4 linked regions of the Homo sapiens genome follow. The protein of the gene in region 1 purifies or fractionates together with the protein of each later gene. This does not show direct contact. Each region holds a gene or a part of one and is shown in the gene's direction. Other genes may lie near its edges. The genes, in order: DCAF12, MCMBP, MOV10 and GOLIM4.

Region 1 (7,632 bases):
AGATCACTTGAGGTCAGGAGTTCTAGACAAGCCTGGCAAACATGGGGAAACCCTGCCTCTACTGAAAATACAAAAATTAGGGCCAGGAGTGGTGGCTCACGCCTGTAATCCTAGCACTTTGGGAGGCCGAGGCAGGCGGATCACCTGAGGTCGGGAGTTCGAGACCATCCTGACCAACATGGAGAAACCCCATCTCTACTAAAAATACAAAAACATTAGCCAGGCGAGGTGGTGGGCACCTGTAATCCCAGCTACTCAGGAGGCTCAGGCAGGAGAATCGCTTGAACTCAGGAGGCAGAGGTTGCAGTGAGCTGAGATTGCACCATTGCACCCAGCCTGGGCAATGAAGCGAGACTGTCTCACAAAAAAAAAAAAAAAAAAAAAAGAAAAGAAAAGAAAAATGAAAGAAATTTCCAGGCTAGGCATGGTGGCTGATGCCTGTAACCCCAGCACTTTGGGAAGCCGAGGTGGGTGGATGACCTGAGGTCAGGAGTTTGAGACCAGCCTGGCCAACACGGTGAAACCCTATCTCTACCAAAAATACAAAAATTAGCCAGGTGTGGTGGCGCAGGCCTGTAGTCCCAGCTACTTGGGAGGCTGAGGCAGGAGAATTGCTTGAACCCGGAAGGCAGAGGTTGCAGTGAGCTGAGATCGTGCCACTGCACCCCAGCCTGGGTGGGAGAATGAGACTCTGTCTCAAAAAGAAAAAAAAGAAATTTCCAGAACCTCAGAAGGCTCCCTGAGGTCCCCTGCCAGTTAGTAATCCCGCTTAAGGGTAATGACTGATTTCTCTTACCATGGATCAGTTGTGCCTGTTTTCATACTTCAAAAACATGAAATTAGGCATTTACTAATTACATTTAGGAATTACTGCTTTGGTTGGCCTCAGTGTCTCATACCTGTAATACCAGCACTTTGGGAGGCCAAGGTGGGAGGATCGCTTAAGCCCAGGAGTTTAAGACCAGCCTGGGCAACCAGGCGAGACCCTGTCTCTACAAAAGATAAAAAATAAGCTGGGTGTGGTGGCACATGCATGCCATGCCACTGCACTCCAGCCTGGGCAACAAAGCGAGAACTTGTCCCTCAAAAAATAAAAATAAAAAAAGGAATTACTGCTTTGTGTTTGACTTTTTTGGAGACAGGTCTGGATCTCCCAGGCTGGAGTGCAGTGGCATGATATTGGCTCTCCACCTGCAACCTCCACCTTCTGGGCTCAAGCTATCCTCCCACCTCAGCCTGCCAACTCCCAAGTAGCTGGGACTACAGGTACATGCCACCCCACCCAGCTAATTTTTGTATGTTTCTATAGAGACAGGATTTTCCCATGTTGCCCATGCTGGTCTCAAACTCCTGAGTTCAAGCAATCTACCTGCCTCAGCCTCCCAAAGTGCTAGGATTACAGGGGTGAGCCCCGTGCCCAGCAGTGTGTTTGATTTTTTTTTCTTTTCTTTTCTTTTTTTGAAACGGAAACTCATTCTGTTGCCCAGGCTGGAGTGCAGTGGCTCGATCTCGGCTTACTGAAGCCTTGGTCTCCTGGGTTCAAGCGATTCTCCTGCCTCAGCCTCCTGAGTAGCTGGGACTACTGGCGGGCACCACCATGCCCAGCTAATTTGTGTATTTTTAGTAGAGAGGGGGTTTCACCATGTTGGCCAGGCTGGTCTCAAACTCCTGACCTAAGGTGATCCACCCGCCTTGGCATCCCAAAGTGATGGGATTACAGGTGTAAGCCACCACGCCTGGCCTGATATCTTTTATGCAATATTATAAAATTCATTCACACAGTTTTGTCAAGGTGAAATAAAATATATAGATGAATCTCTAAAATTAAAATGTTTTGTGAAGCAGGAATTGTAATTCAGGGCACACGCAGACTGGGTGGTCTTTGCCATGTCTGCAGAACAAAGAGAAGGTTGGAAGTTTTGTAAAAAGGAAGTGTTATGTATTGCTCTTCAAGAAAGTTCACTGGCACTAGTAAGGTTTTGGAGAGCTGGCAAGTTTTGATTGGTAAGTGAAGGCAATAAGTAAAACTATTTCTGAGAGTCACAGTAGGTTGTTTTAACAGCTATTAGATAAAACTGCTTTCAGATTATAGCACGCAGTTTCAGCAGTGAGGCTCACTAAGAATGCCATTCTTGGAGTAGTTACATGCCCTGAGTACTTTTTCCCCCAGCCACTCTACTACTTTATTATTGTTATCATTATTATTTTATTATTTTATTTTTTACACAGGGTCTTGCTCTGTCACCCTGGCTGGAGTCCAGTGGCATGATCTCAGCTCACTGCAACCCAGCTACTCAGGAGGCTGGTCTCGAACTCCTGACCTCAGGTGATTGGCCCAACTCGGCCTCCCAGTGTGCTGGGATTACAGGCGTGAGCCACCGCACCTGGCCTGCAGTCTTTTAAAGGCAATTGTCAATTAAATTTCCAAAATGGACTTTCATTCTGTTATTTGAATAGAAATGGTGAGCTCTTGGCCAGCCGTGGTGGCTCATGCCTGTAATCCTAGCACTTTGGGAGGCCGAAGTGGGCGGATCACCTGAGGTCAGGATTTTGAGACCAGCCTGGCCAACATGGCGAAACCCCATCTCTACTGAAAATACAAAAATTAGTGGGCAACCATCCTGGCTAACATGGTGAAACCCCGTCTCTACTAAAAATACAAAAATTAGTGGGCAACCATCCTGGCTAACATGGTGAAACCCCGTCTCTACTAAAAATACAAAAAATTAGCCAGGCGTGGTGGCGGGCGCCTGTAGTCTCAGCTATTCGGGAAGCTGAGCCAGGAGAATGGCGTGAACCCAGGAGGCGGAGCCTGCAGTGAGCCGAGATCGCACCACTGCACTCCATCCTGGGCGACAGAGCGAGACTCCGTCTCAAAAAAGAAAAAAAAAAATTAGCTGGGCAACGTGGCGAGCACCTGTAATCTGAGCTACTCAGGAGGCTGAGGTAGGAGAATCACTTGAACCCAGGAGGCAGAGGTTGCAGTGAGCCGAGATCGTGCCACTGCACTCCAGCCTAGGCTACAGAGTGAGACTCCATCTCAAAAAAAAAAAAAGAAAAGAAATCGCGAGCTCTGCTATAAGGTACATTTGGGGATGGTTCCTAGGTTGTGAAGATGAAGTAAAGGAACTTTGAGAAAGAGACTGCAGCAGTGCCCAGTGTGCCCCTCTTGGCACTGACAGCCCAATCTGAGCCTAGAGATTCTCAAAGGATTCCAGACTCTTGCCCAGGGGCTCTTGGGTCATCCAGAGCATTGCGGGGCAAGACAGAATTAGAACAGACTCAAAAAAGAAAGCTGACCCACTCCTGACCCACTCACTATGTGCATATCTCTAAAGGGACAGGCCTGACCAAATAAGATGGAGCTGCCTTTCGCAAGACATTAGGGGTTAGTGGTAGTGCCGACTTGGGATGGCAGGAGACCCTGCTTCAATCTGGTCTTTGATTCGGCTTGGAAAACAAATCCAAATCTCCTTGTTGACAGAACTTGAGATGGTCCAACAGAGCTCCTTGGAGGTATGAGGCCTGAGGCCTGAAGCCTGAAGTGACCAGCAGGTAACTGGGCACCACAGCCTGAGGCCAATCAGCCCCAAGCAAGAGCATCCTGCTTCCTCAGAGGGTTTGTTTGCTTGAGGAAAGCGAAGGCTGGCAGTCATATTCCTTCAGGATCTTCCAAAAATGTTGGCAAGGGTGATCCTGATGAAGCCCCCTTGTTTGGAGGCCAATGCCAGCTCTAACTGGACTGGCAAGCCAAAAATGACCACTCTCTTTCCTGTAGTTCAGAATTCCCGACCTGCCCTAATGGAGACGCAACCTGAATCCAAGAGTGAGGCAGGCAGCTACAGATAAGTTTACAGCGTGATGACTACTTCATAAAGCACAAAAGACCATGTGGTTTAGATGGCAGGTCATGGAAATCTAAAGGGAATGGTGAAGTTGCACCGTAAGGGGAAGGTGACTGAGGAGCTGAAACTGACTGAGGGGCTGAAGCATTTCGGACAGGAGAAAGGATCAGGAGGAGACAGAGCGGAGAATGGAGCCTCAGGGCTACCCAGCGGTGGGAAGAGGGTAGCCAGAGACTCGTAGGGCGGCCTGGGTTGGTTGTGCTGGGCAGGTTCTCAGTGGTGGGAAAGTCTGGCCACACTGCCCTGACTTCCTGACTGGACTTCACCTCGAGGGTGGGAGCGGTTCCTGCCCCCCACCCCCCCACCCCCCTGTCCAGCCCTTGGAGCCAGGGCACGGTTTGTGACAGATTCAGGGAAACGTTTGGTGCCAGATGGGAGGTAACCGGGTTAAGGCCTGCACTAGGGAGGATTCCTTCCCCCAGCAGCACTGGTGGTCCTCACTTCCGGGTGCCTGCGGATAGGCGGGCTGGGGTCGGAGGTCGGCGGCCAGAAGCCAGATTCCCTTGGCCCCAGCTCGTCCACTTCCATCCAGCAGTAGCCAAACAACCGTTGAAAATGGCCTGGCGGCGGCCGGGAAACACCAGAGAACTATCTTCCAACCCCTAGATCCCGCCCATCTCGTTCCGGCGGTGTTTCCGTGGCGACGCTATCCGAAGTGCGGCTGCGCAAGGGTGACGGCGCGCGAGCAAGGGGGAGGGGGTGTTTTGGTTCTAGCCGCTCGCCGTCCTTGCAGGCTCTGCCGTCGGAAAGCCGCTCATTCTCGCTTCCCCTTCCCTTTCCCGGCTCAAGTCCTTCCTCTCTCTTTCCTTTCTTTCCGCCTATCTTTTTTCTGCTGCCGCTCCGGGTCCGGGCCATTTTCCGGGCCGGGCGCACTAAGGTGCGCGGCCCCGGGGCCCAGTATATGACCCGCCGTCCTGCTATCCTTCGCTTCCCCCGCCCCATGTGGCTGCGGGGCCGCGGCGGCGCTGCCCACTATGGCCCGGAAAGTAGTTAGCAGGAAGCGGAAAGCGCCCGCCTCGCCGGGAGCTGGGAGCGACGCTCAGGGCCCGCAGGTGAGGGTTGAGAGGCCGGCACCTGGGTGGTGAGGCTGAGGAACCAAGATGGGCTTAGGGTCCGCAGATCCTGCGACGGGAATCGGGGTCCAGGGTCTGCAGTCAGAGGCAAAACAGGAATGGGTTCAGGGCCTATAGGGTCAGGACTGGACCCTCGTTAACTGGAGGGCAGATAGGCCAGGGCGGTGAGGAGCCAAAGGGGAACTCAGGAATGGGACATAATCCGCGGGAGGCCTGCATTCGTGGATAGGGCTTGAAAAGAAACCAGAATCTTGGCTTTGGAGGAAGGGGAAACCGAAGTTAAGGGAATCGGAAACAAACTCTGGTAGAGTGAACTCTACCTTCCATGGGCCCTAGGAAGCTGGGATGATTGCGTCCCTCCTGGAAGAAGGAAGTAGTCTCCCTATATGTATACCCAACCCTGAGCTGGGCCTTTCGGCGTTTGGACCCCAAAAGAAACAACAGTTCCCAGGTATCATCTCTATGCCGCCCCCTTTGGAGGGGAAGGCCTTCTTGGACATAGATATGGCCTCTGATTTCCCGGGGGCCTACTACCCCGTTGGCGGTTGATTTTTCGAATTCTGCAACTGCCTGGAGCGCGGGCATGATGACAGAGGAACGGTCATTGATGATGCATCCCTGGAAGACCTGGGAGCCAGGTCTGGCTCCTTGGACTGTATCTTCCGTGCTCCAGTGGGAGTACAGACTGAGAGGGAGAAGGGGGCTGGGTAGAGATGCAGCCCATGTCGGTATGGGAATCACTCTACCTCTCATTTCCTTCAATCTTTCACTCCTAAAATGTCTAGTAAACCTTTTAGTCTGTTCTATTCTGCATTCATTCCCTTGACTTTCAGCCCTTGTAATTCACATTGGTAAGTTTGACTGTGAGCAACATCTTTTTAATGTTGGAAGAGTTAAACGACTTTCTGGATTGAGATTCTTGTTCTCTTGTGTTTGTATTTGTGTTGTTTGTAAATTCTGCAGTATGAGTTATGAGTTGGTGATTTCTGTAATACAGTAGGATCTGTTCTGAAGAAGAGTAGCCAAAGCCCTGATTTCTAATGTTGTTTCCACAGTTTGGCTGGGATCACTCGCTTCACAAAAGGAAAAGACTTCCTCCTGTGAAGAGATCCTTAGTATACTACTTGAAGAACCGGGAAGTCAGGCTACAGAATGAAACCAGCTACTCTCGAGTGTTGCATGGTTATGCAGCACAGCAACTTCCCAGTCTCCTGAAGGAGAGAGAGTTTCACCTTGGGACCCTTAATAAAGTGTTTGCATCTCAGTGGTTGAATCATAGGCAAGTGGTGTGTGGCACAAAATGCAACACGGTAAGTGCCTGGGGGGATGTGACCTCTCTCCTAGGTCGTGGATATATTGCTCCACTTGCTCTAGAACCTCTGCTAGTTTTCCCGTCTGTTTCTTTTAGGAGGGACTTGCCTTACTCTCCTTTCCATTCTTTCCCGTTGGTGACTTCTTCCTCTTTTCGTGTTCCTTTTTTCACTCATACATTTCTTTTCTGATAAGTCCTCAAAGGAGTGTATTTCTTCAGGCCCTCTCTGGATGTGCTGCTTCTAGAGGGTTGTTTGTTTGTTTGTTTGTTTTTGCCTCATATTTTTATGCTGGTTTTTAAGTCATAGGCCTCAAAGGAAAGATTTAAGAAATAATGATGCTTAGAGCATCATTCAGGATACATAATAGTGAAAACAGCCTAAGAACGTATGTCGAAGTATTTAAAATAGCACACTTGGCTGTTTTTTAGTGAACAGAATCTAAAAATGTATAAACTGAAATATGAGAAATACATGAACTGTTTCCTATAAGGAAGGCAGGGAATGTGTGTCTGGTAGTATATTTCAGGGTATAAGCATTAGCTCTTTGGAAAGTAGCCTTTTTAAGAGTGAATAGAAAGACAGTTATAAATGAATGAAGTGAAAAATTTCTCAGTAAGCTTTGTAACCAACCCAATTATAGGCCAGGATAAAATAAGTCAAAGAGCAGAAACGTTTGGAATAGAGTCCACGAATAGCATGATGTCACAAGACTGGCAAATGAAAAGAGGCAGGGCCTAGGGCCTAGGGGTGGGAAATGATTACGCCCAGCCCTCCCTCGGTTTTCACCTCCCCTGTGTGAATGGACAAGTAATGTCATAATGTGTGAGTAAATTGACCCTGGAATGAAACACATTTTGGATCATTAAAAGAGAGAAGATTGCTCTAGATCAAGAAAGTCTTAAGTACTAGGAGAAGTGTCTGTTTATAAAGGACATAGGCAAAAATTTAAACAGTTTTAAGGAAGGAAATAATACCATGGTGGTTGGTCTGTTTATAAAGGACATAGGCAAAAATTTAAACAGTTTTGAGGAAGGAAATAATACCATGGTGGTTGGGGCCAACCTTTCGTTTCCTCTTCTGTTGAGGAGTCGCTTGTCTTACCCAGAAGCCTTTCAAAACTAAGTGGTGGCAACGGGCCTCCACAGAACTTCCTTTTCTTGGTCTCTCCAGCTGCCCACTCGTGGTTAAGAACTGTCATCCTTGTCACTTGGAGTAGAAAAAGAGTCTCCTGCTTGGAAGAGTTCATTCCACTCCCCGCACGTGCATCATAGTGTTTAGCCTAGCAAATATTACTGAATTGTAAACTGAATTAATCATCATAGCCTCTTGCTTGTTGAATTT
Region 2 (5,930 bases), on another chromosome or scaffold:
CTCGCTGTGTCATCCAGGCTAGAGTGCAGTGTTGTGATCATGGCTCACTGCAGCCTCAACCCCCCCAGGTTCAAGCGATCCTCCCACTTCAGCCTCCTGAGTAGTTGGGACCACAGGCATGTGCCACTGTGCCCAGCTAATTCTTTGTTTTTTGGGTTTTTTTGTTTTGTTTGGGTGTGTGTGTGTGTTTGTGTGTGTGCAGATAGGGGATCTCTTTATGTTGCCCAGGCTAGTCTCGAACTCCTGGGTTCAAGTGATCCTCTCTCCTTAGCCTCCCGAAATTCTGGAATTAGAGGTGTGAGCTACCTCGCCCAGCCCTCTTTTAAGTTTTTGTTTATCTGGGAATGTCTTAATTTCTCCTTAAGGCTAGTTTTGCTGGATGTAGAATTCTTGGTTTATAGTCTTTGTCTCATCATTTCGAATATGTCCTCCCACCACTTTCTGGCCTCTGGTTTCTACTGAGAAGCCAACTAGTTTCTGATAAGGATCCTTTGTACACACTGAGTCATTTTTCTGTCACTGCTTTCAAGATTTTGTGGCTTTTGACAGTTTCGATTATGATGTGTCTATGTGTGGATCTCTGAGTTTATCCTACATGGAGTTTGTTGAGCTTCTTGGAGGTGCAGAATAATTCATATTTTGGGGAAGTTTTCAACAAGTTTGGGAAGGTTTTGGCCATGTTTCTTTCTGCCTCATTTCTCTCTGCTCTCCTTCTGACACTACCACTGTGTATCTGATGTTGCATTTAATGGTATCCCACAGGTCTTCAAGGCTCTGTTCATTTTCCCTCATTCTTCTTTTTTTGTTCTGTTTCTTAGACTAATCTCAGTGAACTTATCTTCAAATTTAGTGATTTTCTTCTGCCTGATCAAATCTGAGCACCTCTAGAGAATTTTTACTATATTTTTCAACTCCAGAATTTTTATTTCCTTCTTCTAAAAAATTATTTCTCTCTTTTTATTGATACTCTCTATTTGGTGATTCTCATATTTTCCTGAAGTTCTTTTTATGTGGTTTCCTTTATTTCTTTGAATGTTTAAAATAGCCAATTTAGAGTCTTTTTGTCTAATGTTTGAGTTTCCTCTGGGACAGTTTTCTACTGACTCCCTTATCCCCAAAGTGTGAGCCATACCTTCTGGTTTCTTTGTACTTTTTTGTTGAAAACCAGACATTTTATTTGGTCAGTGGGGTCTCACTGTATCACCCAGGCTGGAATAGTAAGTAGCACAGCCACAGCTCACTGCAGCCTTAAACTGCTGGGCTCAAGTGATCCTCTTGCCTCAGTAGCTGGGACCATAGGTGTGCACCACCATGCCCAACTAAAGTTTTGTTTTTTTGTTTTTTCTTTTCTTTTTTTTTCTTTCTTTTTTTTTTTGTAGTGATGAGGTCTTGCTTTATTGCCTAGGCTGGTCAACTCCTGGCTTCAAGTAGTCCTCCCACCTTGGCCTCCCAATGTGTTGGGATTACAGGTGTAAGCCACCACATCTAGCCACAACCAGACATTTTAAATTATATAATATGGCAACTCTGCTTTGGAAGTTACTCTGGAAATTAAACCTCCCTAGGGTTTATTGTTGTTGCTGTTTGTTACTGTTGGTAGGTTGTTTAGTAACTTTTTTGACTAATTCTATAAAGTCTGTATCTTTGTCACATGTGGGCACTGAAGTCTCTGCTCTGTTAGTTTTGTGGTTAATGATTGGAAAGAAATTTCCTTAAATGCTGGGTAGTAGTCTCCCAGTCTACGGGTGAATAATAATCATAAATAAAAATAAAAGTTGGGGCAAGCCCTCAGTTCAACACTTAGCCATGCAATTTACAAGCCTTAGCCTTCATTTCCTGCTCGCACAGAGCCTCCAGGTCATGCAGAGGTGGGAGCTATGGTCTCTGAGCATGTCTGCAGCCTTCTGAGTTCCTAGGAGTTACATACTTAAGGTTTTCAGAGCCCTCTACAGACATGTCATTTCCCAGCTAGCTTTTCCATTGAAGGGTTTGGGTTAGTCTGTCTGCCGCAGCTGTTACCCAGTGTCTCAGGTAGCTAAGGTGATTGGTAATTTCTTCCGATTGTTTTTGATAAATGCCCTGGGGAAAGAGGTGGTTCATAGTAGACAGGCTTCCAGTCAGGTTAAATAAAGACAACCTTGCAAATGGGTCCTTCCAGGGAGCCACCAGACAGGTGGTCAGATGACAGTTCTCCGGGAATGGCACTTGGAAGGAGCCCTAGCCCTGTTCTCTCTCCGGTGGCTGCCAGGCTGTTGATTTTTGAAGCTACTAATTATCGCCTGGAGGGGAAGGGGTTGGAATTTAGGAGTAGGACATGTTAAAATGCTGCCAGGCTCAACATTCTTACCAATAATCACCTGGTTTTCTTGCATAAATGCTCTCTGGATTGCTGCAAGTATGGTTTTATTTCTAGTTTTTAAAAAGCTGATTTTGATCAGTGTTAACAGTAGAGACAGTTTTCTGCGGTCCCTTCTCTGCCATTTTCACTAACATCACTCTTCCTTTGTGGAAAAGCATTGTTTCCTATGCCAGTTGCTGATTTATATGTTTGCTTGACCTTAAATGAATCTGAGTTTCATTATTTTATTTTCATCAGCAGCATTATGTATGTATATGCTTTGGTACTTTCACCCATATTGCCTCCTTTGTCTAAGAGGCTGACATGCACCTTACTACATCAGTCAAGGAACCATGTTAATTTTCTTTTCCTTACAAAAATGCACATCATTTACATTTACTCTTTTGATAAAGGCAGTTGAAGATGACTTTGTGGAAATGCGGAAGAACGACCCTCAGAGCATCACTGCTGATGATCTTCACCAGCTGCTCGTGGTGGCTCGGTAAGTGGCGCACGTCCATTATTGCTGTTTCGGTAAGCTTGTGTATATGTCTTCTGAGTTATTCAGCAGTAACTGAGGCAGAATTCTAAAAACGGAAATGAACTTTTCCTTTTAAAAACGCTGTATGAAAGGGCTCATTGAGGGGGAATCGAGTTTGGCTGGTGATCTCTTCAGTGGAACAGGCATGCTGCTTGTTCTCTAAGCTTCAAAGAGTGAGCCACTTTCCAATTCTGACTCTTCAACGATTTCTTTTTAGAAGCCTAACTTGGCTGTTGACTTGTGTGTAACTACCATACGGTCTTGTCTCCTAACGTGCTCTGTGTTTTCACAAAGTATTCCTAGGTCTTAAAAAAAATTTAAAACTTACTATCCCAGCTCTAGACTTAAATTTGTTTCTGTGTTTCAAACCAGGTGTCTGTCTCTCAGTGCTGGTCAGACAACGCTGTCAAGAGAACGATGGCTGAGAGCAAAGCAGCTAGAGTCTTTAAGAAGAACGAGGCTTCAGCAGCAAAAATGTGTGAATGGAAATGAACTTTAAAGATGTAATACCTATGAAGAGTAATGGGCAAACTGTAGCCACATAATTGTAAAATTCAGATATTCATTTATACCACATTGTTTTATAGGTAATTTCTATCACAAACCAGTGACATTTCCTGAAATCAAGCCTGGTAACACCTGATGTTTATATGATATTCAGTAAGGACTTTTACCTTACTGATTTCATGGAGCTTTTGAAGTTTGTTTTATAATAATTATATAAATTAGTAATGATGTAAAAAAAGTATTTGATATTAAAAGTTTAATATTGATAATGTTGCTGATTGTACCATTTCCTTAGCTTCAGCTGAGTCATAGGCCAGACTGTTGAAATGCTGAAATGAAGAAGGTTGTTGCAGTTTCAAAGTCAGAGGAATCGTGCTTCGGATTTCTTATGTTTTCTAGTTCTCTGTTTTTCCAGTTCACAGTGGGTTGGGGTGCATTCAGTAGTCCATCTTTGGGGAACGGAGGCGTACTTGCCATTGATTCACATGACTACATGAAATTCTGTACTGTCATTTCCCAGATGTTTGGCCACAGAAACTTTTTCCCACTTAACATTTGTTAACAGCCTGCAAAACTAAACTTGTACATGGCAGTGGTTCCCAGACTTTTGTATTTTATGGACCGGTAGTAATATTTCCAAAAATCTGGGGTACTATAAGGTTGCCAATTTACCTTGCCAAGTAATCCGAATAAATCACTGTATTATCACCATTTTTTTCATAAAAGGAAAGGACAATCTATCTCTGAATAAGAGGAGTCCTTTAAACGGAATGAATGTGGCTTTTGGGGGCAAAAGAAACCAAGACACTACATTGTCTTTATTTTCTCCTATCCCAGTGCATTTGAGAACCATGCATAAGGGAATGCTGTGCTACAAAGCTGTGCCCAAATATGAAAACAAAATAGGAAACTTAAAAAGCAATACCCCCTTTAGAAAGTTTTTATTTTCTTAAATGTCATTGAGTTGCTTTGATTCTATTGGATTTTTGGCATTTTTTATGGGATCATCAGTTGGTTCCAAGTATGTTAGATCAGCTAACATCTGCTACTCCAGTAACAGCCTCGTACAACTGCAGGTAGGTTTTCTCCAGACCAATTAGTTTTAATAGAGCAAACTAACAACAGACTGTAGTAGCATGGTTATGGCAACCAGAATCTTCAGAAAGGTTAGGACATTACTTTTTAAGCTGTCAGTGGTATCAAATAACTTACCTAGTTGGAGGCAGATAAAGGATCCCTTACGTTTTTTCCTATAAGGCCTAAATTGAAATTGTTAACCAAGGAAACAGGGTCAGCCTTGAAAAATCAAGGAATTCATTGTACCTAATAACTGAAGTAAAAATAACTAGTTGTTCAACTTTTCCTAAACTCAAATCTATTTTTATAAACAAATGTAAATAATGTTTATATTAGAGTTGAACTGGTTTTCATTTTTATAACTGGTAGACTAGACCTTCCTTAAACTTTTAGAAATAAAATGAAGGCTTCACTGGATTTGTGAGGATAAAATACATTTTCTTTAATTGTCCTAGAGCAAAGTACATTAGTCACCATGTGTTTTTTGTGCCAATGTAAATTGTAATTTACCAAAGAAAAATACATACATTGCTTGGTCTTGCAGAAAAGTTCCCTTGAAAGAACCTTTCCAATAAATAAAACGTCCCAAATTAGCAGTACCTTGGGCTGTTTTTCATGAGTAAGAAGATTCACCATCCCATGTGATCTGTGTGGAAAAAGACCATGTCCTCTTGGTGGAAGACATGAGAGAGCTGAACTGAAGTGGAGGAGGTGGTGCAAGAGGGACCTTCCTGCTCAAGGCCCGCCCAGGCAGCGGAATGGAGTGCAGTGCTTGGCTGCAGAAACCCTTTGTCCCTCACCTATATATACACGGACAGTCAAGTTTGTTGCTCTAACGTAAGGCACAGCGTTAATCCTGTATGGCCAGGAAACTGAGTAGACTCCTGTGTAACCCTGTTTGGAACTTTGCCTTCTTAAAATGATTTTTCAAAGATCTCTTTCGAACTAATTTCTGTAGAGTTTAAACGTGTATTTTATCACCTAATGTTGGGTTGTATTTTCTCCCATGTTGGGAACCCTTAATATTTTCAGGACCCGGAAGAAAAGTTGGTAGAAGCAAGCATTCAGTTTTGAATGTTTGGATTTAAAGTATAGTTTCTGATCCATTTCCCTTTTTACATCATGAGTATATTTCAAAGGAGTAACATACTGGCAACAGCTAGACCAAGTGTTCAGTTATAGCAAATCTGCCGTTTACAAATTCTTTAATCTGTTATGCAAGGAATTCTCATACCCATTTGTCACTTTAAATTACAATGGTACTTTATTTTAATAATCACAAGATTTAACACGTAAAAAAAAAAGATAGCACTAATAAATAACAAAAGTGGAATGCTTATCAAAGTAACGACATAATGTTCAGTTGAGAATCAGTCACTTCAACAGAGTAAAGCTCTAAAGACACCAGACGAACCAATACTTGTTGGAATATGCCATACAACTTTCTTACTGTGGGGATTACAGGGG
Region 3 (7,026 bases), on another chromosome or scaffold:
CCCTCGATTCTGCAGCGCTAAGGGCTATGACCTGGAGTTAAGTATGGCGCTGGGGACATACTACCCACCTCCCCGCCTCAGGCAGCTGCTCCCCATGCTTCTTCAGGGAACAAGTATCTTCACTGCCCCTAAGGAGATCGCAGAGATCAAGTAAGTACCATCCCTCTGCACCCCGCACTCTCCCGTCTTTTACCTACTGGCTTCTTTGCATTGCCCTGGCACCTCCGTCCTCAGCCTCCCAGGCTGTATTCATTCATTCCCTTACTGAGCACGCACCATACACCAAGCACCATTCAAGGTGAACCAGTCAAATGAAGGCCTGGCTCATTTTAATGGGGGACAATGAGCATTTTTGTTACAATTTCATGGAGTGATGAGTGCTGTGAAGAACTAAACAGGTCAGGTGTAAGTGGCTCATGCCTGTAATCTCAGCACTTTGGGAGGCCGAGGCAGGTGGATCATTTAAGCCCAAGAGTTCAAGACCAGCCTGGGGCAACATAGTGAGATTCTGTCTCTACAAAAAAAAATTTTAATTAGCCAAGTGTGGTGGCACATGTCTGTAGTCCCAGCTACTTGTGAGGCAGAGGTGGGAGAATTTCTTGAGCCCAGGAGGTTGAGGACACAGTGAGTGAGCCCAGATCATGCCACTGCACTCCAGCATGGGTGACAGAGCAAGATCTTGTCTCTAAAAAAGATGAACAGAACTATACTGAAACTAAAGCAGGGTTAGGGAATGGGTTGGTGCTGCTTTGCAGAAGGCCAGTTAGTCCTGGCCTGTTTGAGGTAGTGATGTTTGAACAGAGAAGGACATTTGAATGAGGTGAGGGTGGGAGTCATGAGAGGATTGGAGGAGAATGTTCTGGCCATAAGAGCCACCATGCAAATGCAAGTCGGGTGAGGTGGGGGCAGGGGCATCCAAGGAAGCAGGAGCCAAGGCTTCCTTCTTCAGGGCCTCTGACTCTCATCCACTTCTGTATCCCTCTAGTCTTCTCTGCTTTTTGACGCTAGTTCCAGAGCTTCAGGTGGGAGAAGGTGGATACTCCTGGGCATAGGGGTTGTCTGGCCCATCCTGTTCCTGCCCCCACTCACCCCTCCCAACCATCATTTCCAGGGCCCAGCTGGAGACAGCCCTGAAGTGGAGGAACTATGAGGTGAAGCTGCGGCTGCTGCTGCACCTGGAGGAACTGCAGATGGAGCATGATATCCGGCACTATGACCTGGAGTCGGTGCCCATGACCTGGGACCCTGTGGACCAGAACCCCAGGCTGCTCACGCTGGAGGTCAGGGCTCAGATTGAGTGTGAGGAGGGTGGGCTCAAGCCAGCCAAGCTAGAGGCTGTGGGCAGAACTATTCCTGACAGCAGGGCAGAACAAGAGGAAAGTTGAAGTGGTTCCCAGGGCTCCGCAAGAAGCAGGGTGGGCATCCTGTGCCCAAAGATGTGTTGGAGCAGGGAAATGGGGAAGATCTGGGTTCTAGTCCAGGCTTTGCTACCACCTTGGGTAAGTCCCTGGCTTTCTCTAAGCCTTAGTTCCCTTATCTGAAAAGCACAGAGCTGGACTGGATAATTCTTAGAGCTCTTTCTGGCTCTTGGATTTTCAATGTGTGCATATAAGCCCAAAATTACACACGAGAATGGATTTCTACACACAATTGCAGGTGGGAATTAGAGGGTGAGTTTGTTCAAGGAAAGATTACTGCAGGAAGTGAGTTTTGAACAAGTTTTTTGTTGTTGTTGTTTTTGTTTTGAGACAGGGTCTCACCCTGGTGCTCAGGCTGGAGTGCAATGGCATGATCTTGGCTCGCTTTAATCCCCGCCGCCCGGGCTCAAGTGATCCTCCCAAGTAGCTGGGACCACAGACATGCCCCACTACGCCTGGCTAATTTTTGTATTTTTTGTAGAGATGGGGTTTTGCCACATTGGCCAGGCTGGTCTCGCAACACCTGGACTCAAGTGATCCGCCTGCCTCAGTCTCCCAAAGTGCTGGGATTACAGGCGTGAGCCACCATGCCTGGTCCGTTTTTTTTTTTTTTTTTTTTTAATTATTTTTTTAGCAACCCGATTAACTGATGAACAGGATTTTTATAGGCAGAGCAGGAACTGAGCTGGCCAAGAGGGCAGCTGCACTGGAGGCTCCGGGTTCCTGGGCTCGGCATCTCTGGGCAGCTTCGGAGGATTTGTCTTCTTCCTCTTCCCCTGACTCCTGCTGGTATGAAAGGAAAGAGGGGTGCAGGGATAGCATAACTCCCTGAGTCTTAGGTTAGAAGGCCAGTCTCAGTCCTTGTCCCTTAAAGGTCTGGGGAACCTGGGGGCTGGGCCCTCCAGCGTCCATCCCTGGGACAGAAGCTTGCTTGTGTTCACACCCCATAGGTTCCTGGAGTGACTGAGAGCCGCCCCTCAGTGCTACGGGGCGACCACCTGTTTGCCCTTTTGTCCTCGGAGACACACCAGGAGGACCCCATCACATATAAGGGCTTTGTGCACAAGGTGGAATTGGACCGTGTCAAGCTGAGCTTTTCCATGAGGTGGGTGTTGGGGGAACCCTGAGCTGCTGGAAGGGTCTACAGACTTCTGACCCCAGGGGAGGAGGAGTGTTTCTCCCTGAGATAAATGAGACCCCGGGGCAGAGCAGGAGACTTTTCCTCAGGGGTACCCTGAGATGCTACGGCAGCTTCCTCTTCTAGAGAACTTGCATAGAGGTCTTGGAAAGAGGGGTTGGGACACTGGTTGGTGGAGAAAGTTCTGGCCCTTTATTGCCCACCTCCCCTGCCCCAACAAACTCTTACCACCTCTCTCTGCCCAAAGCCTCCTGAGCCGCTTTGTGGATGGGCTGACCTTCAAGGTGAACTTTACCTTCAACCGCCAGCCGCTGCGAGTCCAGCACCGTGCCCTGGAGCTGACAGGGCGCTGGCTGCTGTGGCCCATGCTCTTTCCTGTGGCACCTCGGGACGTCCCGCTGCTGCCCTCAGATGTGAAACTCAAGTGAGACTGTGGGCAGGGAGCTTCTGGAGCCACTTGGAGTGTGGGCACAGGGGGTGGAGTCAGGGAGGCCTCTGGGTCACTGGATGACTTCAAGTTCACATTCCTGGTCCCTCTGCCAGGCTGTACGACCGGAGTCTGGAGTCAAACCCAGAGCAGCTGCAGGCCATGAGGCACATTGTTACGGGCACCACCCGTCCAGCCCCCTACATCATCTTTGGGCCTCCAGGCACCGGCAAGACTGTCACGTTAGTGGAGGCAATTAAGCAGGTGGGGTCTGAGCACAAACCTGGGGCCTGCACTCTGATTCCCCCAGCACCAAGCAGTTGTCCCCAGATTCTAGTTCCTTCCCACTCCCGAAATGCTCCTGCTTCTAAGCAGCCATCAGAAAGAGAGGTAGGGGCCGGGTGCAGTGGCTCATGCCTGTAATCTCAGCACTTGGGGAAGACTAGCCCAAGGAGTTCAAGACCAGCCTGGACAATATTGCAAGACCCTATCTCTATGAAAAATATGAAAAATAGCTGGGCACTTGAGGCTGCAGTGCGATTGTGCCACTGCACTCCATCCTGGGTGACAGAGTGAGACTCTGTCTCAAAAAAAAGGGTGGGGATTGGGGAAGTGGGAAGTTAGGGTAAATGTGGCTGTGGAGCACTGTTGTACGGGTAGGGCACTGCATGAATCTTGGAGTCACCATTCACATTTCAGTCATCATAGACTTGCCCTGCCCCAGCCTGGGTACGGCTGAGTCTCAGGAACCTGCCTCCCACACTGCGCTTATCTGCATCTCAGGTGGTGAAGCACTTGCCCAAAGCCCACATCTTGGCCTGCGCTCCATCCAACTCAGGGGCTGACCTACTCTGTCAAAGGCTCCGGGTCCACCTTCCTAGCTCCATCTACCGCCTCCTGGCCCCCAGCAGGGACATCCGCATGGTACCTGAGGACATCAAGGTACTAGGGAAGTGCAGAGGGCCAAAGAATGGCAAATGCCGGGGAGGCTCTCAGGGCAGACACTGAGGCGAGGAAGCTAGGAGACCTGGATTCTGATACTTGCTATGTGACCTTGGGTTGGACAGGACCCCTCCCTGGGCCTCAGTTTGTCTGTAAGTGAGGGGGGTGGATAAAACATTTGGGGGGCTGGGTGCAGTGGCTTACACTTGTAATCCCAACACTTTGAGGGGCGAGGCAGATGGATTACCTGAGGTCTGGAGTTTGAGACCAGCCTGGCCAACATGGCAAAATCCCGTCTCTACTAAAAATACAAAAAAATCAGCTGAGTATGGTGGCGCGTGCCTGTAGCCCCAGCTACTCGGGAGGCTGAGGCACGAGAATTGCTTGAACCCAGGCGGCGGAGGTTGCAGTGGGCCAAGATCACACCATGGCACTCCAGCCTGGGGGACAGCGAGACTCCGTCTCAATTAAAAAAAATAAAAATAATTGTTTGAGGGGGGGTACCCACAGCCAGAATCACGGTGGGAATGAGTGGAGCCAAGCTGATTCCTCTGGTCCCTTCACAATCCACAGCCCTGCTGCAACTGGGACGCAAAGAAGGGGGAGTATGTATTTCCCGCCAAGAAGAAGCTGCAGGAATACCGGGTCTTAATTACCACCCTCATCACTGCCGGCAGGTGGGGAGTGTGTGTGGGTGTGTCTCTGAATCGTAAGTGTAATTAAAGGGGTACCGGGCTGGGGAAATGGGGAAGAATGGTTTCCGGAGTGGGGTGGTGGGTGCTGAGAAGCCAGCCTGGGAAAGCATTCAGGTTTGGTAGTTGGGTGCCTGGATATGACCCCTGCCTGGCCTGACACCTCCCAGGTTGGTCTCGGCCCAGTTTCCCATTGATCACTTCACACACATCTTCATCGATGAGGCTGGCCACTGCATGGAGCCTGAGAGTCTGGTAGCTATAGCAGGTGAGGGACTCAGGTGGGGCTGCAGGTATACACCCTGTGTGGGTCAGAGAGGTTGCACCACTTACCTTTCTTCCCACACCTCTTCTGCTTCCCAGGGCTGATGGAAGTAAAGGAAACAGGTGATCCAGGAGGGCAGCTGGTGCTGGCAGGAGACCCTCGGCAGCTGGGGCCTGTGCTGCGTTCCCCACTGACCCAGAAGCATGGACTGGGATACTCACTGCTGGAGCGGCTGCTCACCTACAACTCCCTGTACAAGAAGGGCCCTGATGGCTATGACCCCCAGTTCATAACCAAGCTGCTCCGCAACTACAGGTATTCCCATGCCCTTGCCTCCCCTGCCATATCCTATGCTTTCACATCCTGCATGCAGACCCCACTGGAGAGTCTGGCTTGCTGTCAGTCCTGTTGCTCAGAGGTTGTGTGATGCAGAAAGACTAAACTGGAAGGCAGGAGGTTTTTCTAGCCCCAGCACTGCTGCTTGTTGTCTGCGTGACTTAGCCAGTGGTTTCACACTACACCAGTCAGCTTATCTGCATCTTAGGGGGTGGTCAGTGGTTCCTAGAGGCTAGGGTGTGTCTGGTACCAGTCCCAGATGAAGTTTTCAGGCAATCCAAGGAGAGATAAGAAAAATAGGGAGGAGGTCGGGCACAGTGGCTCATGGCTGTAATCCCAGCACTTTGGGAGGCCAAGGTAGGTCAGGCTCCCACCCCCGATCACTTGAGGTCAGGAGTTTGAGACCAGCCTGTCCAACATGGTGAAACCCCATCTCTACTAAAAATACAAAAATTAGCCAGGCATAGTGACAGGCACCTGTAATTCCAGTTACTTGGGAGGCTGAGGCAGGATAATCGCTTGTACCCGGGAGGCAGAGGTTGCAGTGAGCTGAGATCGCGCTACTGCAGTCTAGCCTGGGTGACAGAGCGAGACTCCATCTCAAAAAAAGAAAGAAAAATAGGGAAGATACAGTTTTTTCATAAACCTATTGTTATTCAAATTAAAGAGCTGTATACTTTTAGTGAATGAGTTCAGCCATCTAAAATGCTTAGATAAGTTTTATGCTGTCACTAAGAGCTCAATAAATGTTAGTTATTGTGTCATCACTGCTTATATTTTTTGATTTAACACATGGTCTCATCAAATAACGTGATAGTCAAGGAGAATTTGGTTTCGTACTGTCCTTGGTAAATTTGAAACCTGAAAATGGGCCCCTAATTATTTAGTTTTAAATGTCATGGGTCTGTGGAGTCCCTGGACTAGATGCTCTCTGGAACTATATTTGGTTCTGCTTTCTGTGGTTTACAGTGCCTGGCAGCAGATATTATGGAGGAGTGTCCTGCTATCCAGGGAGCCAGCGGGGTAGCAGGCTATTGTGTGTGGGCCCAGAGTGGGTAGAGCGGAGCCCCTGTAGGGCAGAGGGAATCTGACCCTTGGTCTTGCTTTTCCTCCTCCGGCCTCCCAGGTCTCATCCCACCATCCTGGACATTCCTAACCAGCTCTATTATGAAGGGGAGCTGCAGGCCTGTGCTGATGTCGTGGATCGAGAACGCTTCTGCCGCTGGGCGGGCCTACCTCGACAGGTGAGGCTGAGCAGGGCAGGCCCCACCCCTGTACCCTGACTTCCCTCCCACTGAAGGTGCAGCCCCTCCCTTTGTCACCTTGGCCTAGGATCTCTTACTCTCTGGAAGGGTTTGGGAAGGGAGGGAATAGAGGGAGGGTGGTCTGGCTGACGGTTTCCCCCGACCCCATGTCCAGGGCTTTCCCATCATCTTTCACGGCGTAATGGGCAAAGATGAGCGTGAAGGCAACAGCCCATCCTTCTTCAACCCTGAAGAGGCTGCCACAGTGACTTCCTACCTGAAGCTGCTCCTGGCCCCCTCCTCCAAGAAGGGCAAAGCTCGCCTGAGCCCTCGAAGTGTGGGCGTCATCTCCCCGTACCGGAAACAGGTCAGGTCCTCAGTTACCAGCAAGGGTGGGGCCCCTCCCCCAGATGGTACCTCCTTAATATCCAGACCACTAGGCAGAGGCTCCAGGAGCTTAGGCCTCTGCTGGCTCCGTATCTCAGAAGAGCACCAAGGTCAGCTGCCGCCTCCCTTTGTTCCCCAGCTCCCTGGCCTCCTGCCAGGCTCCCTCTTGCATTAGGT
Region 4 (7,026 bases), on another chromosome or scaffold:
GGTTTTCTTCCAGGGTTTTTATGGTTTTAGGTCTAACGTTTAAGTCTTTAATCCATCTTGACTTGATTTTTGTATAAGGTGTAAGGAAGTGATCCAGTTTCAGCTTTCTACATATGGCTAGCCAGTTTTCCCAGCACCATTTATTAAATAGGGAATCCTTTCCCCATTGCTTGTTTTTCTCAGGTTTGTCAAAGATCAGATAGTTGTAGATATGCGACGTTATTTCTGAGGGCTCTGTTCTGTTCCATTGATCTATATCTCTCTTTTGGTACCAGTACCATGCTGTTTTGGTTACTGTAGCCTTGTAGTATAGTTTGAAGTCAGGTAGTGTGATGCCTCCGGCTTTGTTCTTTTGGCTTAGGATTGACTTGGCGATGCGGGCTCTTTTTTGGTTCCATATGAACTTTAAAGTAGTTTTTTCCAATTCTGTGAAGAAAGGCATTGGTAGCTTGATGGGGATGGCATTGAATCTATAAATTACCTTGGGCAGTATGGCCATTTTCATGATATTGATTCTTCCTACCCATGAGCATGGAATGTTCTTCCATTTGTTTGTATCCTCTTTTATTTTCTTGAGCAGTGGTTTGTAGTTCTCCTTGAAGAGGTCCTTCACATCCCTTGTAAGTTGGATTCCTGGGTATTTTATTCTCTTTGAAGCAATTGTGAATGGGAGTTCACTCATGATTTGGCTCTCTGTTTGTCTGTTGCTGGTGTGTAAGAATGCTTGTGATTTTTGTACATTGATTTTGTATCCTGAGACTTTGCTGAAGTTGCTTATCAGCTTAAGGAGATTTTGGGCTGAGACAGTGGGGTTTTCTAGATATACAATCATGTCGTCTGCAAACAGGGACAATTTGACTTCCTCTTTTCCTAATTGAATAGCCTTTATTTCCTTCTCCTGCCTAATTGCCCTGGCCAGAACTTCCAACACTATGTTGAATAGGAGTGGTGAGAGAGGGCATCCCTGTCTTGTGCCAGTTTTCAGAGGGAATGCTTCCAGTTTTTGCCCATTCAGTATGATATTGGCTGTGGGTTTGTCATAGATAGCTCTTATTATTTTGAAATACGTCCCATCAATACCTAATTTATTGAGAGTTTTTAGTATGAAGGGTTGTTGAATTTTGTCAAAGGCTTTTTCTGCATCTATTGAGATAATCATGTGGTTTTTGTCTTTGGCTCTGTTTATATGCTGGATTACATTTATTGATTTGCGTATATTGAACCAGCCTTGCATCCCAGGGATGAAGCCCACTTGATCATGGTGGATAAGCTTTTTGATGTGCTGCTGTATTCGTTTTGCCAGTATTTTATTGAGGATTTTTGCATCAATGTTCATCAAGGATATTGGTCTAAAATTCTTTTTTTTTGTTGTGTCTCTGCCTGGCTTTGTATCAGAATGATGCTGGCCTCATAAAATGAGTTAGGGAGGATTCCCTCTTTTTCTATTGATTGGAATAGTTTCAGAAGGAATGGTACCAGTTCCTCCTTGTACCTCTGGTAGAATTCGGCTGTGAATCCATCTGGTCCTGGACTCTTTTTGGTTGGTAAGCTATTGATTATTGCCACAATTTCAGCTCCTGTTATTGGTCTATTCAGAGATTCAACTTCTTCCTGGTTTAGTCTTGGGAGAGTGTATGTGTCGAGGAATTTATCCATTTCTTCTAGATTTTCTAGTATATTTGTGTAGAGGTGTTTGTAGTATTCTCTGATGGTAGTTTGTATTTCTGTGGGATCGGTGGTGATATCCCCTTTATCATTTTTTATTGCATCTATTAGATTCTTCTCTCTTTTTTTCTTTATTAGTCTTGCTAGCGGTCTATCAATTTTGTTGATCCTTTCAAAAAACCAGCTCCTGGATTCATTAATTTTTTGAAGGGTTTTTTGTGTCTCTTTTTCCTTCAGTTCTGCTCTGATTTTAGTTATTTCTTGCCTTCTGCTAGCTTTTGAATGTGTTTGCTCTTGCTTTTCTAGTTCTTTTAATTGTGATGTTAGGGTGTCAATTTTGGATCTTTCCTGCTTTCTCTTGTGGGCATTCAGTGCTATAAATTTCCCTCTACACACTGCTTTGAATGCGTCCCAGAGATTCTGGTATGTTGTGTCTTTGTTCTCGTTGGTTTGAAAGAACATCTTTATTTCTGCCTTCATTTCGTTATGTACCCAGTAGTCATTCAGGAGCAGGTTGTTCAGTTTCCATGTAGTTGAGCGGTTTTGAGTGAGATTCTTAATCCTGAGTTCTAGTTTGATTGCACTGTGGTCTGAGAGAAGTTTGTTATAATTTCTGTTCTTTTACATTTGCTGAGGAGAGCTTTACTTCCCAGTATGTGGTCAATTTTGGAATAGGTGTGGTGTGGTGCTGAAAAAAATGTATATTCTGTTGATTTGGGGTGGAGAGTTCTGTAGATGTCTATTAGGTTCGCTTGGTGCAGAGCTGAGTTCAATTCCTGGGTATCCTTGTTGACTTTCTGTCTCGTTGATCTGTCTAATGTTGACAGTGGGGTGTTAAAGTCTCCCATTATTAATGCGTGGGAGTCTAAGTCTCTTTGTAGGTCACTCAGGATTTGCTTTATGAATCTTGGTGCTCCTGTATTGGGTGCATATATATTTAGGATAGTTAGCTCTTCTTGTTGAATTGATCCCTTGACCATTATGTAATGGCCTTCTTTGTCTCTTTTGATCTTTGTTGGTTTAAAGTCTGTTTTATCAGAGACTCGGATTGCAACCCCTGCCTTTTTTTGTTTTCCATTTGCTTGGTAGATCTTCCTCCATCCTTTTATTTTGAGCCTATGTGTGTCTCTGCACGTGAGATGGGTTTCCTGAATACAGCACACTGATGGGTCTTGACTCTTCATCCAATTTGCCAGTCTGTGTCTTTTAATTGGAGCATTTAGTCCATTTACATTTAAAGTTAATATTGTTATGTGTGAATTTCATCCTGTCATTATGATGTTAGCTGGTTATTTTGCTCGTTAGTTGATGCAGTTTCTTCCTAGTCTTGATGGTCTTTACAATTTGGCATGATTTTGCAGTGGCTGGTTCCGGTTGTTCCTTTCCATGTTTAGCGCTTCCTTTAGGAGCTCTTGTAGGGCAGGCCTGGTGGTGACAAAATCTCTCAGCATTTGCTTGTCTGTAAAGGATTTTATTTCTCCTTCGCTTATGAAGCTTAGTTTGGCTGGATATGAAATTCTGGGTTGAAAATTTTTGTCTTTAAGAATGTTGAATATTGGCCCCCACTCTCTTCTGGCTTGTAGAGTTTCTGCCGAGAGATCCGCTGTTAGTCTGATGGGCTTCCCTTTGAGGGTAACCCGACCTTTCTCTCTGGCTGCCCTTAACATTTTTTCCTTCATTTCAACTTTGGTGAATCTGACAATTATGTGTCTTGGAGTTGGTCTTCTCGAGGAGTATCTTTGTGGCGTTCTCTGTATTTCCTGAATCTGAACGTTGGCCTGCCTTGCTAGATTGGGGAAGTTCTCCTGGATAATATCCTGCAGAGTGTTTTCCAACTTGGTTCCATTCTCCCCATCACTTTCAGGTACACCATTCAGACGTAGATTTGGTCTTTTCACATAGTCCCATATTTGTTGGAGGCTTTGCTCATTTCTTTTTATTCTTTTTTCTCTAAACTTCTCTTCTCGCTTCATTTCATTCATTTCATCTTCCATCGCTGATACCCTTTCTTACAGTTGATTGCATCGGCTCCTGAGGCTTCTGCATTCTTCATGTAGTTCTCGAGCCTTGGTTTTCAGCTCCATCAGCTCCTTTAAGCACTTCTCTGTATTGGTTATTCTAGTTATACATTCTTCTAAATTTTTTTCAAAGTTTTCAACTTCTTTGCCTTTGGTTTGAATGTCCTCCCGTAGCTCAGAGTAATTTGATCGTCTGAAGCCTTCTCTCAGCTCGTCAATGTCATTCTCCATCCAGCTTTGTTCTGTTGCTGGTGAGGAACTGTGTTCCTTTGGAGGAGGAGAGGCGCTTTGCTTTTTAGTTTCCAATTTTTCTGTTCTGTTTTTTCCCCATCTTTGTGGTTTTATCTGCTTTTGGTCTTTGATGATGGTGATGTACAGATGGGTTTTTGGTGTGGATGTCCTTTCTGTTTGTTAGTTTTCCTTCTAACAGACAGGACCCTCAGCTGCAGGTCTGTTGGAATACCCTGCCTTGTGAGGTGTCAGTGTGCTCCTGCTGGGGGGTGCCTCCCAGTTAGGCTGCTCAGGGGTAAGGGGTCAGGGACCCACTTGAGGAGGCAGTCTGCCCGTTCTCAGATCTCCAGCTGCGTGCTGGGAGAACCACTGCTCTCTTCCAAGCTGTCAGACAGGGACATTTAAGTCTGCAGAGGTTACTGCTGTCTTTTTGTTTGTCTGTGCCCTGCCCCCAGAGGTGGAGCCTACAGAGGCAGGCAGGCCTCCTTGAGCTGTGGTGGGCTCCGCCCAGTTGGAGCTTCCCCACTGCTTTGTTTACCTAATCAAGCCTGGGCAATGGCGGGCGCCCCTCCCCCAGCCTTGCTGCCGCCTTGCAGTTTGATCTCAGACTGCTGTGCTGGCAATCAGCGAGATTCTGTGGGCGTAGGACCCTCCAAGCCAGGTGCGGGATATAATCTCGTGGTGCGCCGTTTTTTAATCCCGTCGGAAAAGCGCAGTATTTGGGTGGGAGTGACGCGATTTTCCAGGTGCCGTCCGTCACCCCTTTCTTTGACTCGGAAAGGGAACTCCCCGACCCTTTGAGCTTCCCAAGTGAGACAATGCCTCGCCCTGCTTTGGCTCGCGCATGGTGCGCGCACCCACTGACCTGCACCCACTGTCTGGCACTCCCTAGTGAGAGGAACCTGGTACCTCAGATGGAAATGCAGAAATCACTGTCTTCTGCGTCGCTCACACTGGGAGCTGTAGACCGGAGCTGTTCCTATTCGGCCATCTTGGCTCCTCCCTTATACATTTCTTCACACCTAGTAGATAAATCCTTGACATATTTTTTCAATTGTATATTTACTTTAATTTTGCTTCTGCTATTTTGAGTGAACTTTTTGGAAATCAAAATATATTATTGCAAGTCTTTAAATGATAACAGTGTCAAAATATATTATCGCAAGTGCTTGAAAGACAAAAGTGTTTAAATGATATCTGTGGTTTGTTTTAGGTTCAGGAAGATTTGACTGAAGAGAAAAAAAGGGAACTGGAGCATAATGCTGAAGAGACCTATGGTGAAAATGATGAAAATGTATGACCGGGATACATATTTCTATTGAGCACTTGAGTGTTTGTGGGTGTGCATGTGTATAGGAGAGATATATGTATTTGGGATACGTACCAGTGGGTAATGGTACCTCTGAGTTACCACTGAATTTAACAGGCCCACCTGAAATTAGGAAAAGTTGTGACAACATGAAAAGTAGGAGAGACAGCAGCACTGTTGCTTACATATCATTTTTCTTCCTTTTTTTTCCTCCAAAAATGAGTAATTTTTCATCCTGTTTTTAGAGAGAATTATTTATCACTAACTCTATACTATCTCTTAGTTTTTCTTTTTTCTTTTAATTTTAAGACTGATGATAAAAATAATGATGGAGAAGAGCAAGAAGTTCGAGATGACAACCGCCCCAAAGGCCGAGAGGAACACTACGAGGAGGAAGAAGAGGAGGAAGAAGACGGGGCTGCAGTTGCTGAGAAATCACATCGAAGAGCTGAAATGTAGCGGCACCCAATTTCTAGACAACGCTCAGCCAACGGATTCTTTTCAAGCTGCTCAAACATAAATCTGCCTACTGAACTCTAGGATATTTAATTACAAAAATTAAGAACTTAGACTTTTTTAAAACTTTTGTATTAGAAATGCGCATACATTTATATGAATATATTTTGATAACGTAGGTCTAGAGCTTCTTTTATATTCAAGCTAAACATGAAAAAGAAGAAAAACAATAAAGTAAACCTGAGCCCCCACGTCCCAATTTTTTTAATAGATTATGTGATGTTGGAAAGCTCATTGATTTTGTATATGTTTCAGCGTGTTACCTTTCTGGCTTCCAGTTCCCAGGTGTTCTTTGTTTGCCTTTGATAAAATACAGGATTTAAGAACAGAGAGTACTGCAAAATGCCATGCAGACTTTAAAGAGAATGGCCTGTTTACTAATTGCTGCCCTTCTGATGTCTTTATGTATAGCTCTGATAGAATTTTCACCAGTCTATGTATCTCTGGAGTGAGATCTATGTACAAAGTGACATACAATTGGAAATCCATTTTTGTTGTAAAGACATTGTTTTTCAGACTTTTCAGATCAATTAGAAAAATGTCATTGCTTTAAAATCATAGCTGTTCTGTTTAAGAGGAATTGAATTTAAAAATGAGAGAGTATTAAAACTCATGTGGCAGTATCCTGGTCTTAATCAGGTATTGCAGTGTTCAAACAAGGTATGGACACATCAACATATTCACCTTTTGGAAGGACTAGTGACTTGGTTAAAAACTAATGAGTGTTTGCGTGTGGTGTTTCTATGCGAGCACCCATTCTCAATTTTTTTTTTTTTTTTTTGTTTGAAGCCATTGATTGATATTCTTGTTTCAGTGTCTGGTTCCCTATAAGTAATATATATTTCCTCTTTAAGCTCTGTGCCTCAATATGCAATCACTTTGATAATAAGTATAAATATGAAGACATACCAAACTGCAAATAGGATTATTTTTCAAAACTATATGGTGAAACATATGGTGATATGATAGACTTATGGTTTTTCTGTTTGCTGGGATTGGGTCTGCTTTTTGCCTATGTGTAAGGCATTTTAATCATTGTGAATATAATAGATTCCTTAAAATAAGAAAATTAAAAATCAGAAACTTCCCTTGGAGTAGAGACATTTCAGTTGCAAGCATAAAGATTTTTAAATATATAACACTAGGTTATATAATTCATATATGTGTGGTTTTGTATTAATAATCAAATTAATAAAAACATTTCATTTTCTACCATTGTATGAACGTAATTTTATTTTTTAATAACCACACTCATAGATGGTTTTGATTGTTCCAGTTGAGTGATTG

What was found.
Region 2: the proteins of DCAF12 (region 1) and MCMBP purify together in Homo sapiens (affinity purification with mass spectrometry; 2 studies listed by BioGRID and IntAct, with this or other methods). This does not show direct contact.
Region 3: the proteins of DCAF12 (region 1) and MOV10 purify together in Homo sapiens (co-immunoprecipitation; 3 studies listed by BioGRID and IntAct, with this or other methods). This does not show direct contact.
Region 4: the proteins of DCAF12 (region 1) and GOLIM4 purify together in Homo sapiens (affinity purification with mass spectrometry; 2 studies listed by BioGRID and IntAct, with this or other methods). This does not show direct contact.

What each region holds. Positions count from the first base shown.
Region 1 is NC_000009.12:34,123,679-34,131,310, reverse strand, and holds the start of DCAF12 (DDB1- and CUL4-associated factor 12), read left to right. Parts: upstream 1-4,612; 5' UTR 4,613-4,879; coding exon 4,880-4,957; intron 4,958-6,033; coding exon 6,034-6,288; intron 6,289-7,632. UniProt on the Homo sapiens protein: Substrate-recognition component of a DCX (DDB1-CUL4-X-box) E3 ubiquitin-protein ligase complex of the DesCEND (destruction via C-end degrons) pathway, which recognizes a C-degron located at the extreme C terminus of target proteins, leading to their ubiquitination and degradation.
Region 2 is NC_000010.11:119,828,922-119,834,851, reverse strand, and holds the end of MCMBP (mini-chromosome maintenance complex-binding protein), read left to right. Parts: intron 1-2,751; coding exon 2,752-2,840; intron 2,841-3,251; coding exon 3,252-3,378; 3' UTR 3,379-5,412; downstream 5,413-5,930. UniProt on the Homo sapiens protein: Associated component of the MCM complex that acts as a regulator of DNA replication.
Region 3 is NC_000001.11:112,691,650-112,698,675, forward strand, and holds part of MOV10 (helicase MOV-10), read left to right. Parts: intron 1-15; coding exon 16-150; intron 151-1,111; coding exon 1,112-1,280; intron 1,281-2,368; coding exon 2,369-2,523; intron 2,524-2,803; coding exon 2,804-2,980; intron 2,981-3,099; coding exon 3,100-3,247; intron 3,248-3,766; coding exon 3,767-3,925; intron 3,926-4,498; coding exon 4,499-4,602; intron 4,603-4,787; coding exon 4,788-4,885; intron 4,886-4,980; coding exon 4,981-5,197; intron 5,198-6,344; coding exon 6,345-6,462; intron 6,463-6,637; coding exon 6,638-6,829; intron 6,830-6,988; coding exon of another isoform or gene 6,989-7,024; exon of another isoform or gene 7,025-7,026.
Region 4 is NC_000003.12:168,008,925-168,015,950, reverse strand, and holds part of GOLIM4 (Golgi integral membrane protein 4), read left to right. Parts: intron 1-5,127; coding exon 5,128-5,208; intron 5,209-5,532; coding exon 5,533-5,682; 3' UTR 5,683-7,026. UniProt on the Homo sapiens protein: Plays a role in endosome to Golgi protein trafficking; mediates protein transport along the late endosome-bypass pathway from the early endosome to the Golgi.